3 linked regions of the Homo sapiens genome follow. The protein of the gene in region 1 interacts with the protein of each later gene in a pairwise test. Each region holds a gene or a part of one and is shown on either strand. Other genes may lie near its edges.

Region 1 (3,748 bases):
ACAGGGATGAAATAGACCCATTTGCCTTTCCCAGTGTTGTTGAAGGCTTTGGAAGTAGGCAGGTTACAAAACGATTGAGTTTCTATTTCTTCCAATGTAAAAATGAGAAAATAATAATTGACATAAAGAATTGTTGTAAGGTCTAGAGATAACATATGTAAGAGCACAGCAGATTCCATGGTACCATAGTAGATGCTTAGTGACTATAAATTGTCGGTTTTTTTTTTTTTTTTTTTTTTTTTTTTTTTTTTTTTTTGAGACGGAGTCTCGCTCTGTCGCCCAGGCTGGAGTGCAGTGGCGGATCTCGGCTCACTGCAAGCTCCGCCTCCCGGGTTCACGCCATTCTCCTGCCTCAGCCTCCCAAGTAGCTAGGACTACAGGCGCCCGCCACTACGCCCGGCTATTTTTTGTAGTTTTAGTAGAGACGGGGTTTCACTGTTTTAGCCGGGATGGTCTCGATCTCCTGACCTCGTGATCCGCCCGCCTCGGCCTCCCAAAGTGCTGGGATTACAGGCGTGAGCCACCGCGCCCGGCCAAATTGTCATTTTTATAAAGTTAATGCTGACAGGGTGGAATGCATGATGCCACATCTCTGCATTATAAAGAACTTGGGGATTGTGAAAGAAAGATGCTCTTGGCCTTTGTAATCTGTCTTTATTGTGTGACTCTGCAGACACAAGTGTGTATGTTTCAGGTCTTAAAGGGTTGGGCAGCCGTCTTCAGAAACAGCCCAGGATGGCAGCTCACTGCCGACTGGCCAGCTCTTGGCCAGCAAGTTAGGAAGATCAGGCCAGCTGAGCAGTCCGTCCCCAGAGTACTCCAGTTCTGGTTATGCTACTCACAGGCTGAAGCGCTGAAGAAAGTCCTTTTTCCAAGCCTAGTTCAATATTCTATAAAACATGTATAATAATTCTGCTCTAGAGAGAGGGGTGGTAAATTGATGGACTCACTGGGCATTGTTATCTGTTTTGAAAATGAAATCTACAATGAGCAGTACATTTATTTAAAGAACACTTTTCTTTGCAGAAAGTGGAAATGGTTTAACTTCTTTACTTTGTTTCACTAGTTAGTTAGTGTGCATCTTCAATGTCTCTGCCTACATCATTATTTACTATGATATCAAAACTCCTAAGGGCAAAGATGATGTCTGCTTCATTTACTTTTTAGAGCACCCAGAAAAATGCCATGAACAAGTATATTTTTAATCCACTCATATGCTGTTATTGTAGATTGAAATATAAACTATATCCCATACTCATAAAAATATTTTGTTCTTATTTGAATCATTTAAGACCAAAAATCTGTAAAACTTCTCTATCAGAGCAGCACTGAATGTCCTTACAGACAGAACAAATGCATACCTTTTGGTTTATTTTAATTTTAAAACATTGATATTGACTGACTCTTTATTACAAAAGTCTGCCCAATGTAGAACATGTGAAAAATGCTGAAAACCATATAAAGGAAATGAAAAGTTTTCTTTAATTCCCATGCTGGAAGATAATCACTTGGAACATCGTGGTATTTTTTCCTAAATGATTCATTTTAAGGCGTTATTAATATCATCTAATTCTTAGCTAATTTTAAGACTTTCGACATGTTTCTTCTCACTGTGATTTCCATCTTTTCAGGTAGTGATCCTGTGTTCTTTCCAGCAAGAATTATCGTTTTGTTGTTTTTCAGTGCATTGAAACATGTTGTCGGTTAAAGGAAAGGGTTTGCCATGAGCTGCTAGTCACTTACCCCTGTTTCAAAGGAAACTTGTGGTTACCATGAAGGAAAATTTAATCCATCTGCCACAATGCATTTGTTCTCCTGAGAACCAGGTGGAACTACCTCTGACTATTTCCTTAGGATTATGCCACCCACCAAGGTAACTTTCTATTTCAGTAGGTGATGTTGAGAAACAAAACAACACCCTTTAAGTTAATCAGTTTTGGAAAATAGAGACTGGCTTTCTATTCCATGGCTTTGATGTGTTTAGTAGTTCCTGTAAGGATCTGCCTCTCTTTTGTTTTGATTGACAAGACTTTTCCTATATATTTGAGCAATCAAGCAGCCCAGTAACAGAAGGTAGAGACATTTACCCAGGGCAAACTTCTACCATTCATTGTGACTTCCTGAAATCTTAGTGCAAGTTTCAGCTCTAAAAGAAGAGTGGGCTCCTGCAAGATTAGGTAAGTGCTTCTCCGTATTTGTAACCTCATTCCAGAGGAGGGGAAGCCCAGAGAACTTGCTACAGTAAGGTCAGAAGTAGGAACTGTGAGAATAATGAATTCAGTAGGGGGTAAAGGTCCATGAATGCCATATCCTTTATACTTCAAAATCCACGTGAGTTCTGTCTAGTGGGCCAAGCATGAAGGGGGTTGATTCTGGCTCCGGAAAGAGCACGGGGAATGACCAAGACCCAGAGAGGGTGGACTTGACGGTGGATTGAGGTTATGTTTTAAATAACTCCTATGCTTTCCATCATTTGGATTTAAATTGAATCATAAGTAGATGCTGTTGCAGTGGAAGCCTAGAGCAGAAGCAATTTACAGTGAGTAGGACACATTTATGAATGGCCACCAACTCAGGTGATAGGTTTCATGATATCTTCTGCATATCCATGTTTAGTGGTGAGTTGGTTTAGTAACGATGCATATAGGGAATACTATTATTAATATTTATCAACCCCTCCAAATCATTCCCCATCATGACACTGAAAATATAGTTTTGAGCAAAGTATGTAACATGGCACCCAAATACCCTGGACCTGAATAAAAATAATTTATATGTATTCATGTATTCTGTTGGATTATGGATTAGTTTTGGTGTTACTCATATTTTATGTTTATTTTGGAAAGACCACTGGGACAAACTTCTTTAACACACAAGTCAACTGCAGCAGTTAAGTTACAATAAGGAAAAGCCTGAGAATGCACTTGGAGGATGGGCATCTAGAGAGGGCCATGGAATCCACACTGGCACCAGTTACAGGAATCTCTGGATGCCTGTGTTGGAGTTTGTGGGCATTTACAATTTCTGGGCTCATTTTCCCTGAAATGCTAGGAGCAAGGTCCCTTTGATAGTGACAAATGCATGGTTGGCTGTGCCATTGAAGGCAGCCAGATCTGTTAAACTCTGTCCTTTCCCTCTCCGGAAGAGCAGCATGAAGCTGGCATTCCTCTTCCTTGGCCCCATGGCCCTCCTCCTTCTGGCTGGCTATGGCTGTGTCCTCGGTGCCTCCAGTGGGAACCTGCGCACCTTTGTGGGCTGTGCCGTGAGGGAGTTTACTTTCCTGGCCAAGAAGCCAGGCTGCAGGGGCCTTCGGATCACCACGGATGCCTGCTGGGGTCGCTGTGAGACCTGGGAGGTGAGTTGCTAAGTTGTGCAGATGACAGTGTCTTCTAGGCCAGCAGCTTGGGTCTGATTCTTAAGAGTTCACTTTTTAAATGATATGAGGTAGAGCTGGGACATCTGCCCTTTCCTGTGGACTTAAAAAACCAAAACAAAACTATGATTGGCATCTTCCAAAAGTGATTTGAAAAACATGATGTTGCCCCTCTAACAAAGCATTGATAAGGTTAAGAATTTGGTTTACATTGTGTCTATGTATCTGGGAATCATCTCTGGGAGGTCAAGATGTACTGTTCTACCCGTTTTACAGATGACATGGAGGGATTCAAGGGAGAGTGGCTGCAAAGTCACGTAGAGCGTCAGTGTAAAGCTGGGAATCAATCTGTGGTTCAAGCTTGTGACCCAAACT
Region 2 (3,748 bases), on another chromosome or scaffold:
GCCCTGCTCACCCAAGAGACCTCTTCCCCAGTTCCAGTTTGGCCCCAAATGGTTGCCTCTCCATAGACAAAATGTTTCCCACCTCTCTATCCCTTTAACTGTTTGACAGTAATGCAGATTCGTTTATCAGATTAACTGGAAGTCAATCCAGGTTGGCACCCCTGGAGAAGGCCTGGCCACCTGAGCTGCCTTCAACTAAAGGACTGATCTGTAATAGACACTTTAGCCTCATGTGGCCGTGGAGAACCAAAATGATCTATGGAAATGTAGGGAAACTCATTTTAGCTCACAACAAAGGAGTCACTTTTTACCTGTTAGAGATGTCCAATATTAGAATGGGCTACCTCATAAGGTAATGAGCCTTGTCACCCAAATGCTTTAAACAGAAGCCATCATCTGTCACATGCCAGAGGGTGCCCCTCAAGAGTGGGAGAGCAGGGGCTGAACTGCTGAGTTCCCGCTGCGTCCTGTTGCTATGCTGCCTGCACCCTTGGTGGGGAGAAGAGAAGAGGTGGACTGCTGCGGAGGACCTGGCAAACAAGGACCCAGGTCTTGAGGGGATGGGGGCTGATGGGGAAACCGTAGGGTGTGGGAATTTAAGGATTAGTGACATTAGTAACATCACTTCCTCTCAAATTGCGTTTACAGCCTTTACTCGACTGTCCCAAACATGGCCTGTTTTACAAAGCTGCTAAGAAGCACAGCTCCAAATCTGGAGCTGTGAGTGCCCGCCCTGACTCTGACTAGCTTACAGTGAAGCTTTGGGAAGTTGTTTTCCGCTGAGCTCTTATTTTCTCATCCAGAAAATGAGGGGGTAGGATTTGGTGAGTTATAAAGTGCCTTCTAGCTCTAGCAGTCTGTGACTGGCCCTGCTCTTTCTGAGCAGATCAGTGAGGCAATGACCCCAAAGCGGGGCTGCCCAGAATCACCACAGGCTTCCTTTGGCTCTCCACCTTGCCCCAACCCCTCTGGCCACTGCTGCCTGGGGGTCTTTCTCCAGCTTGCCACATTCTTGCTCAAGTGTAGTTTAGCACCATGGATGGACAGCAGATTTGAATTTGAAATCAGCCCTAACATTAACTAGCTGGGTGACTTTTAGTAACTTTCTTTCTTTGAGCCTTAGTTGCCTCATCTATAAAACCAGAGTTGGACAAATAGATCAGCTTTGCTGGGGTTGATAACTTCAGGCCCTTTCAGGAGTCAGGTCCCTGTTATTCCAGGGCTAGGGGAGCACTCCAGCTCAGAACGTTACTCTGTAGCACAGGATGCGAATCATCCACTGATACCGTGGCCATGCAACTCTGAAACAGACAGCAACCCCCAAACCCCCGGCCCTGCCACCAAGCACATCTCAGGAGACCTCCACTGGTATAATTTCCCTTGTCCCTAAGAATCTCCTTCCCCAATCCCTTTCCTTTGCAGTTAGAAAAAGGCAAGCAGGACTGAGTTTAGTGGTTTTAAAATTAGGGGTGTGGCCAGGCACAGTGTCTCATGCCTGTAATTCTAGCACTTTGGGAGGCCTAAGCAGGCGGATCACTTGAGCTTAGCAGTTCAAGACCACCATGGGCAACATGGCAAAATCCTGTCTCTACAAAAAAATACAAAAGTTAGCTGGTCATAGTGGTGTGCCTGTGGTCCCAGCTACTCAGGAGGCTAAGGGGGAGGATGGCTTGAGTCTGGGAGGCTGGGAGGTGGAGGTTGCAGTGAGCCGAGATAACACCACCACACTCCAGCCTAGGTGACAGAGCCAGACCCTCTCAAAATAATAGTAATAAATAATAATAAAGTTAGGGGTGATCAGGCCCTGAACAGGGAAATGTTCTGTCCAAGGTCACAGAGCAAAGAGAACCCAGGTGTCCACAACTCAGCCAAGAGTCTTGACCCCTGTGTCGTCAGCTGCACACACGCTGCACACTCCACCAGCTCCTAGGCTTCTCTCCACATCTGACTTATCGAGGCCTGGGCTGTGGGTAGCTTTTTGGACAGAAAGAAGCAGAAAGCAGCAGGAGCTGCTCTCCGAGGACCGCACCTCAAAGAGCAAGATCCCCCAGGTGGGATCGCTCTGAGGCTTCAGGCAGGGGAGGCTGGTTTGAAAGCCGATCTCCAAGAGGGCGTGGCTCCAAAATGCTGGCAAATAAAAGCCTGGAGAGCCAGCACCAAGCTGGAGACCAGCAGGAGGCACAGGAAAACTGCAAGCCGCTCTGTTCCTGGGCCTCGGAAGTGGTGAGCTCGCTGAGGCAGGAGGAGCTCTGGGGAGGGTCTGGGAATGTGGACGAGGGCCCTGCAGGCCAAGATGGGGCAGATGGAGGGAGGAAGATGTTTGCGCTCCAGATGGCGAAGAAAATTCCAGGGAAGGGAGAATCACTGCACAGAGGGCTGACACACAGGTCCTTTCCAGAGACAGCTGCTCACACTCACACCCATACACACACACACACACACACAAAGGCAGATACAGGGAAAAGGCAGCACCATTCAGGCACACCTCACCTGTCAGACCAGCCAGCCCTGGCTCACTCACCTGGAATGCAGTATTTAAAGAACTCGCCATCCCACCTGCACACCCACGTAGAGACATCTCCCCACTGTGTTTCAGATGCCTATGGCGTCCCCTCAAACCCTGGTCCTCTATCTGCTGGTCCTGGCAGTCACTGAAGCCTGGGGCCAGGAGGCAGTCATCCCAGGCTGCCACTTGCACCGTGAGTACCTCTGGGACCGGAGGGCTAGGAGCAGTGGAGGTTCTGGGTGGGAGCAAAGAGCTGAGTGGACGGTGGGGCAGGCAGCACCCTAAAGGGCCCCACACTGAGGCACAGGCAACGGGAGCTGGGGCGAGGCAAACCTTGGCAGAGGCGCCGTCTACTGCTTGCCTATCTCCTTCTAGCCTTCAATGTGACAGTGCGAAGTGACCGCCAAGGCACCTGCCAGGGCTCCCACGTGGCACAGGCCTGTGTGGGCCACTGTGAGTCCAGCGCCTTCCCTTCTCGGTACTCTGTGCTGGTGGCCAGTGGTTACCGACACAACATCACCTCCGTCTCTCAGTGCTGCACCATCAGTGGCCTGAAGAAGGTGAGGAGGGCCCGGGCCCGGTGGATGGACGCTGGGGTCGCGGGAAGACCAGAGAGATGGAGATCCTAGACAGCCCTGAGAAAGGGGACTGCAGCACGGACTCCCCTCTCCCGCAGGTCAAAGTACAGCTGCAGTGTGTGGGGAGCCGGAGGGAGGAGCTCGAGATCTTCACGGCCAGGGCCTGCCAGTGTGACATGTGTCGCCTCTCTCGCTACTAGCCCATCCTCTCCCCTCCTTCCTCCCCTGGGTCACAGGGCTTGACGTTCTGGTGGGGGAAACCTGTGTTCAAGATTCAAAAACTGGAAGGAGCTCCAGCCCTGATGGTTACTTGCTATGGAATTTTTTTAAATAAGGGGAGGGTTGTTCCAGCTTTGATCCTTTGTAAGATTTTGTGACTGTCACCTGAGAAGAGGGGAGTTTCTGCTTCTTCCCTGCCTCTGCCTGGCCCTTCTAAACCAATCTTTCATCATTTTACTTCCCTCTTTGCCCTTACCCCTAAATAAAGCAAGCAGTTCTTGAATTTCTCTCTTTATTAAGTCTACCCCCAGCCACGGAAAGAGGAGTAGACCATGATTACTGTGAACCCCCCCTTACCCCAGGACACTGTGAATCTCTTCTTGCCTGTGCCCTCCCCCTCCCCCTGCCCAATAAATAAAAAGGGGACAAGGAAGTACACAGCGAG
Region 3 (3,748 bases), on another chromosome or scaffold:
GTAAATATCTTAGTTCGAGGAGAAGTCTGTGGAAAATTTAACCTTACCAATTGCTGCCTGCACATAGATGATCAGAGGCAAGTAGTCGAAGATATAGTTAAAGACATGACGAAACTGGCACATGTGCCTGTACAAGTGTGACACGGATTTGACCCTGAAGCTATGTTTAAAAATGGTTCCCAGTGCTAGGAGGATTTAAAACTCTTATAATAAAAATTATAGTAGTAATAGCCTGCTTACTGATCCCTTATTTACTATCTGTACTCATTCAAATGGTAAAAGGTTTCATCACTACTCTAGTTCACCAGAATGCTTCAGCACAAGTGTACTACATAAATCACTATCGATCTGTCATGCAGGAAGACATAGGTAGTGAAGATGAAGGTGAGAACTCCCACTAATAAAATGAGTGAGAGTCTCAAAGTGGGGGAATAAGGGAGGAGACCACCCCTCATATTGTCTTATGCCCAATTTCTGCCTCCAAAGAAAGAAGTAGTAAAAACTAAAAGGCAGAAATGAAATCCACAAGCAGACAGCCAGGCACCACACCCTGGGCCTCGTAGTTAAAGATCGACCCCTGACCTAATCGGTTATGTTATCTATAGATTACAGACATTGTATAGAAAAGCACTGTGAAAATCCCTGTCCTGTTCTGATCTAATTACCGGTGCATGCTTGCTCAATCGATCACTACCCTCTCAAGCGGATCCCTTTAGAGTTGTGAGGCCTTAAAAGGGACAGGAATTGCTCACTCAGGGAGCTCAGCTCTTGAGACAGGAGTCTTGGCCGATGCTCCTGGCGGAATAAACCGCTTCCTGCTTTAACTCGGTGTCTGAGGGGTTTTGTCTGCGGCTTGTCCTGCTACACTACAGCAAAAATTAGGTTGTATTATAGAAAATTAACTTTTTTGGTTTTTTTGAGACGGGGTCTCGCTCTGTCTCCCAGGCTGGAGTGCAGTGGCACCATCTCGGCTCACTGCAACCTTCACCTCCAGGGTCAAGCAATTCTCCTGCCTCAGCCTCCCGAGTAGTTGGGATTACAGGCACACGCCACCACGCCCAGCTAATTTTTTAAATTTTTAATAGAGATGGGGTTTTACCATGTTAGCCAGGCTGGTCTCAAACTCCTGGCCTCAAGTGATCTGCCCACCTCAGCCTCCCAAAGTGCTGGGATTACAGACGTAAGCCACCACGCCCAGCCGAAAATTAACTTCTATTAATTGCATACCTGGGTTTGCCTACTGAGAATCATACCCTGGATATTTGTATTCTTTACTGAAAAGAACTGTTCTATCTTTCCAGAAAGTGGTTTCCTAAATTCTGGTTTTCCTCCTGGAATCCTGCTATTTCCTTCTCGCATACTCTAGAGAAATCGAAGTGTTTTCAAAGGTGCTCTGAAGCTTACGCTCCACTAGTTTCACAGTAAATCGCCCCTTGCGAGGGCGCTTTTTTTTTTTTTTTAATGTGTTCTCTGAATCGCTTTCCCCCTTTAACACTGCATGACAAGACTAAAGCCAGAATCCCAAGACTGCAGCGCTACCCCTTCACAAGCCGTCGGGCTGTCCCGGGCGGGGCCGGCCCATTTTCACTTTCTCCACTAGAGGCAGCAGCGCACCGTGACCCTGGCTTACTACGGTAAGAAAGCGGAGACCTTTTGCTTCGAGGCGGTTGGTGGCCAGTAGTCTTGATCGACAAGCTCAGGCCTCTGAACTAAGCAGCCGCTGTTTATGCACGTACAGCCAATGGAAAGGCAGGAGTGCGGCCAACGGCCAATGAGGACTGGTCTTAAGCGGACCACAGGGCGGGGTTTCCCTCGAGAGGCGAACGCCGGGTAAAAGATCGGGAGCGGAAGTGGGCGAGTCAGAGCACATCCGGTGTTAGAAGCGCTGGTAGGCCTTGGAGAGGCGGGTTAGGAAGGTACGTCTGAACCTAGTACTGGGCGAACTGGGAGTGAGAAATGGAAAGGGAGTTAGCAGTTACTGTCTGAGCAAGAGTGGCAGTAGCTTCCTTCTGCGGACAGATGGCACCCTGAAGGAACGAGGCCCTGCTCGGAGACCAGACTCGGGAAAACAGGGTGTGGAGGGAAGCTAGGGAACTAGTGCTGCGCGTGCGCAACAGTGCTGAAGCGGGGGTGGGGCGGAGGCGAGTCTGCGGGGGTTTTGGGGGGTGTCGAGGCCTCTATTCTGCCCCAGAGCGCTGGCGAAGGCCCCTTCTCAGCCCGCCTTTTCCTTTCTCCCGCTCCTTCTCCTCTACTAAGTGTAGACGCAGGGCCCCTTGGCCTAGCTTCGATCGTTCGAATTCAGAGCACGTCCTTCCGAGGTGAAGGAACGCGAAACTCCACCCATCCGATTGCTGTTCGGCTGCGGGCGGGTCCTTTGGTCGGGCTGACCCTGGGTGAGCGGCCCGGAGCCAAGACTCGAGGTAGGGCCTGGCGGGCGGGTGATGTCACACTCCTCTGTGACACGCGAGGCTCCTCAGTTACTTAGCCAACGGCAGAGGCGGGAAGTGAGAGGAGTCTGGGGCTGGGGCTGCCTTCCAGGCCCACGGGGCGGCCCCGCTCTTTTCGGATTGGTTACCTTTGGGCAGGTGAGGTGGCTTTGCTTTGCTTGGTCTTGAGGTTTTGTGGGCGTCTTTCTAAGTCTGCTCAGCAAGGGCGTCGTTGGGCAGTTTTTATCTTGGGCCTACTTGCTGGACCTGTGGTAACAAGTAGGCTTTGGTATCTTTGTATATTTACTGAGTGTAGAATTACTACCCGGTGCCAGCCCGGGCTGCTTGGGGTCATCAGCCTTTCATTGACCACCCCCACAACAAAAATCACTATGAACTTGAGACTGTGTTCTAGCAACTTGTGAATGTGTAACCCAGTAGAAGGGCTGACTGTGCTTGAAACAGACAAGGATTTTAAGGTCAAAGGTAAATAAATGGCAAATGGACTTTTCTAGTTACTTATTGATATTTATTTACAGTTTATCTTTTGTATGTGTGGTTTAAGAATTGAATTCTGGAAAGATACCGGAATTGCATAAACACATTTCTTATGACCTGCGTATACACACTTTTTTCTGTAATTATTGTATTTACACTCTTTGGTGTTTTCTTATTCTTTGTGTCTAATATTTTTGTTCTGGCCTAAAGAATATGTTGACATTTAGATTCTCTGCCGCCACTTTCCTCCAGTAGGGACAGAATAGTTGAACCCTTGAGAAATACAATCTGTACTTTTGATCCATAGTTTGCTTCTTCCGTTATTTATCTGGTTGTGGAAACATGGTTTAGTACCTTCCTCCTCTTTTTTTTTTTTTTTTTTTTTGAGGCAGAGTCTCACTGTCGCCCAGGCTAGAGTGCAGTGGCGCAGTCATGGCTCACTTGAACCTTGACCTCTCCTGGCTTAGGTGATCCACCCCAGCCTCCTGAGTAGCTAGGACCACAGGTGGACGTCACCAGCTCCAGCTAATTTTTGTATTTTTTGTGGAGATGGGGTATCACCATGTTGCCCAGGCTTACCAACTCCAGAACTCAAGCGATTTATTTATTTATTATTATTATTATGTTTTTTTTTTGAGACAGTCTCACTCCCTTACCCAAGCTGGAGTGCAGTGGTGCAATCTCGGCTCACTGCAACCTCCGCCTCCCTGGTGCATTCAATTCTCATGCCTCAGCCTCCTAAGCAGCTGAGATGACAGGCGCGCACCACCATGCCCAGCTAATTTTTGTATTTTTAGTAGAGACGGGCTTTTGCCAAGTTGTCC

What was found.
Region 2: the proteins of GPHB5 (region 1) and GPHA2 interact in binary tests that used the Homo sapiens proteins (3 or more experiments, as listed by UniProt).
Region 3: the proteins of GPHB5 (region 1) and TMBIM6 interact in binary tests that used the Homo sapiens proteins (3 or more experiments, as listed by UniProt).

Annotation. Positions count from the first base shown.
Region 1 is NC_000014.9:63,317,253-63,321,000, reverse strand, and holds the start of GPHB5 (glycoprotein hormone beta-5 precursor), read left to right. Parts: upstream 1-2,065; 5' UTR 2,066-2,177; intron 2,178-3,150; 5' UTR 3,151-3,151; coding exon 3,152-3,355; intron 3,356-3,748. UniProt on the Homo sapiens protein: Functions as a heterodimeric glycoprotein hormone with GPHA2 able to bind and activate the thyroid-stimulating hormone receptor (TSHR), leading to increased cAMP production. Plays a central role in controlling thyroid cell metabolism.
Region 2 is NC_000011.10:64,934,309-64,938,056, reverse strand, and holds GPHA2 (glycoprotein hormone alpha-2 precursor), read left to right. Parts: upstream 1-2,163; 5' UTR 2,164-2,223; intron 2,224-2,596; coding exon 2,597-2,699; intron 2,700-2,881; coding exon 2,882-3,066; intron 3,067-3,182; coding exon 3,183-3,284; 3' UTR 3,285-3,586; downstream 3,587-3,748. UniProt on the Homo sapiens protein: Functions as a heterodimeric glycoprotein hormone with GPHB5 able to bind and activate the thyroid-stimulating hormone receptor (TSHR), leading to increased cAMP production. Plays a central role in controlling thyroid cell metabolism.
Region 3 is NC_000012.12:49,739,696-49,743,443, forward strand, and holds the start of TMBIM6 (bax inhibitor 1), read left to right. Parts: upstream 1-1,861; 5' UTR 1,862-1,916; exon of another isoform or gene 1,917-2,073; intron 2,074-2,173; exon of another isoform or gene 2,174-2,441; coding exon of another isoform or gene 2,442-2,585; intron 2,586-2,742; exon of another isoform or gene 2,743-2,912; intron 2,913-3,721; exon of another isoform or gene 3,722-3,748. UniProt on the Homo sapiens protein: Endoplasmic reticulum (ER)-resident protein that confers cellular protection as an anti-apoptotic protein by limiting multiple stress-inducing pathways surrounding the endoplasmic reticulum and mitochondria.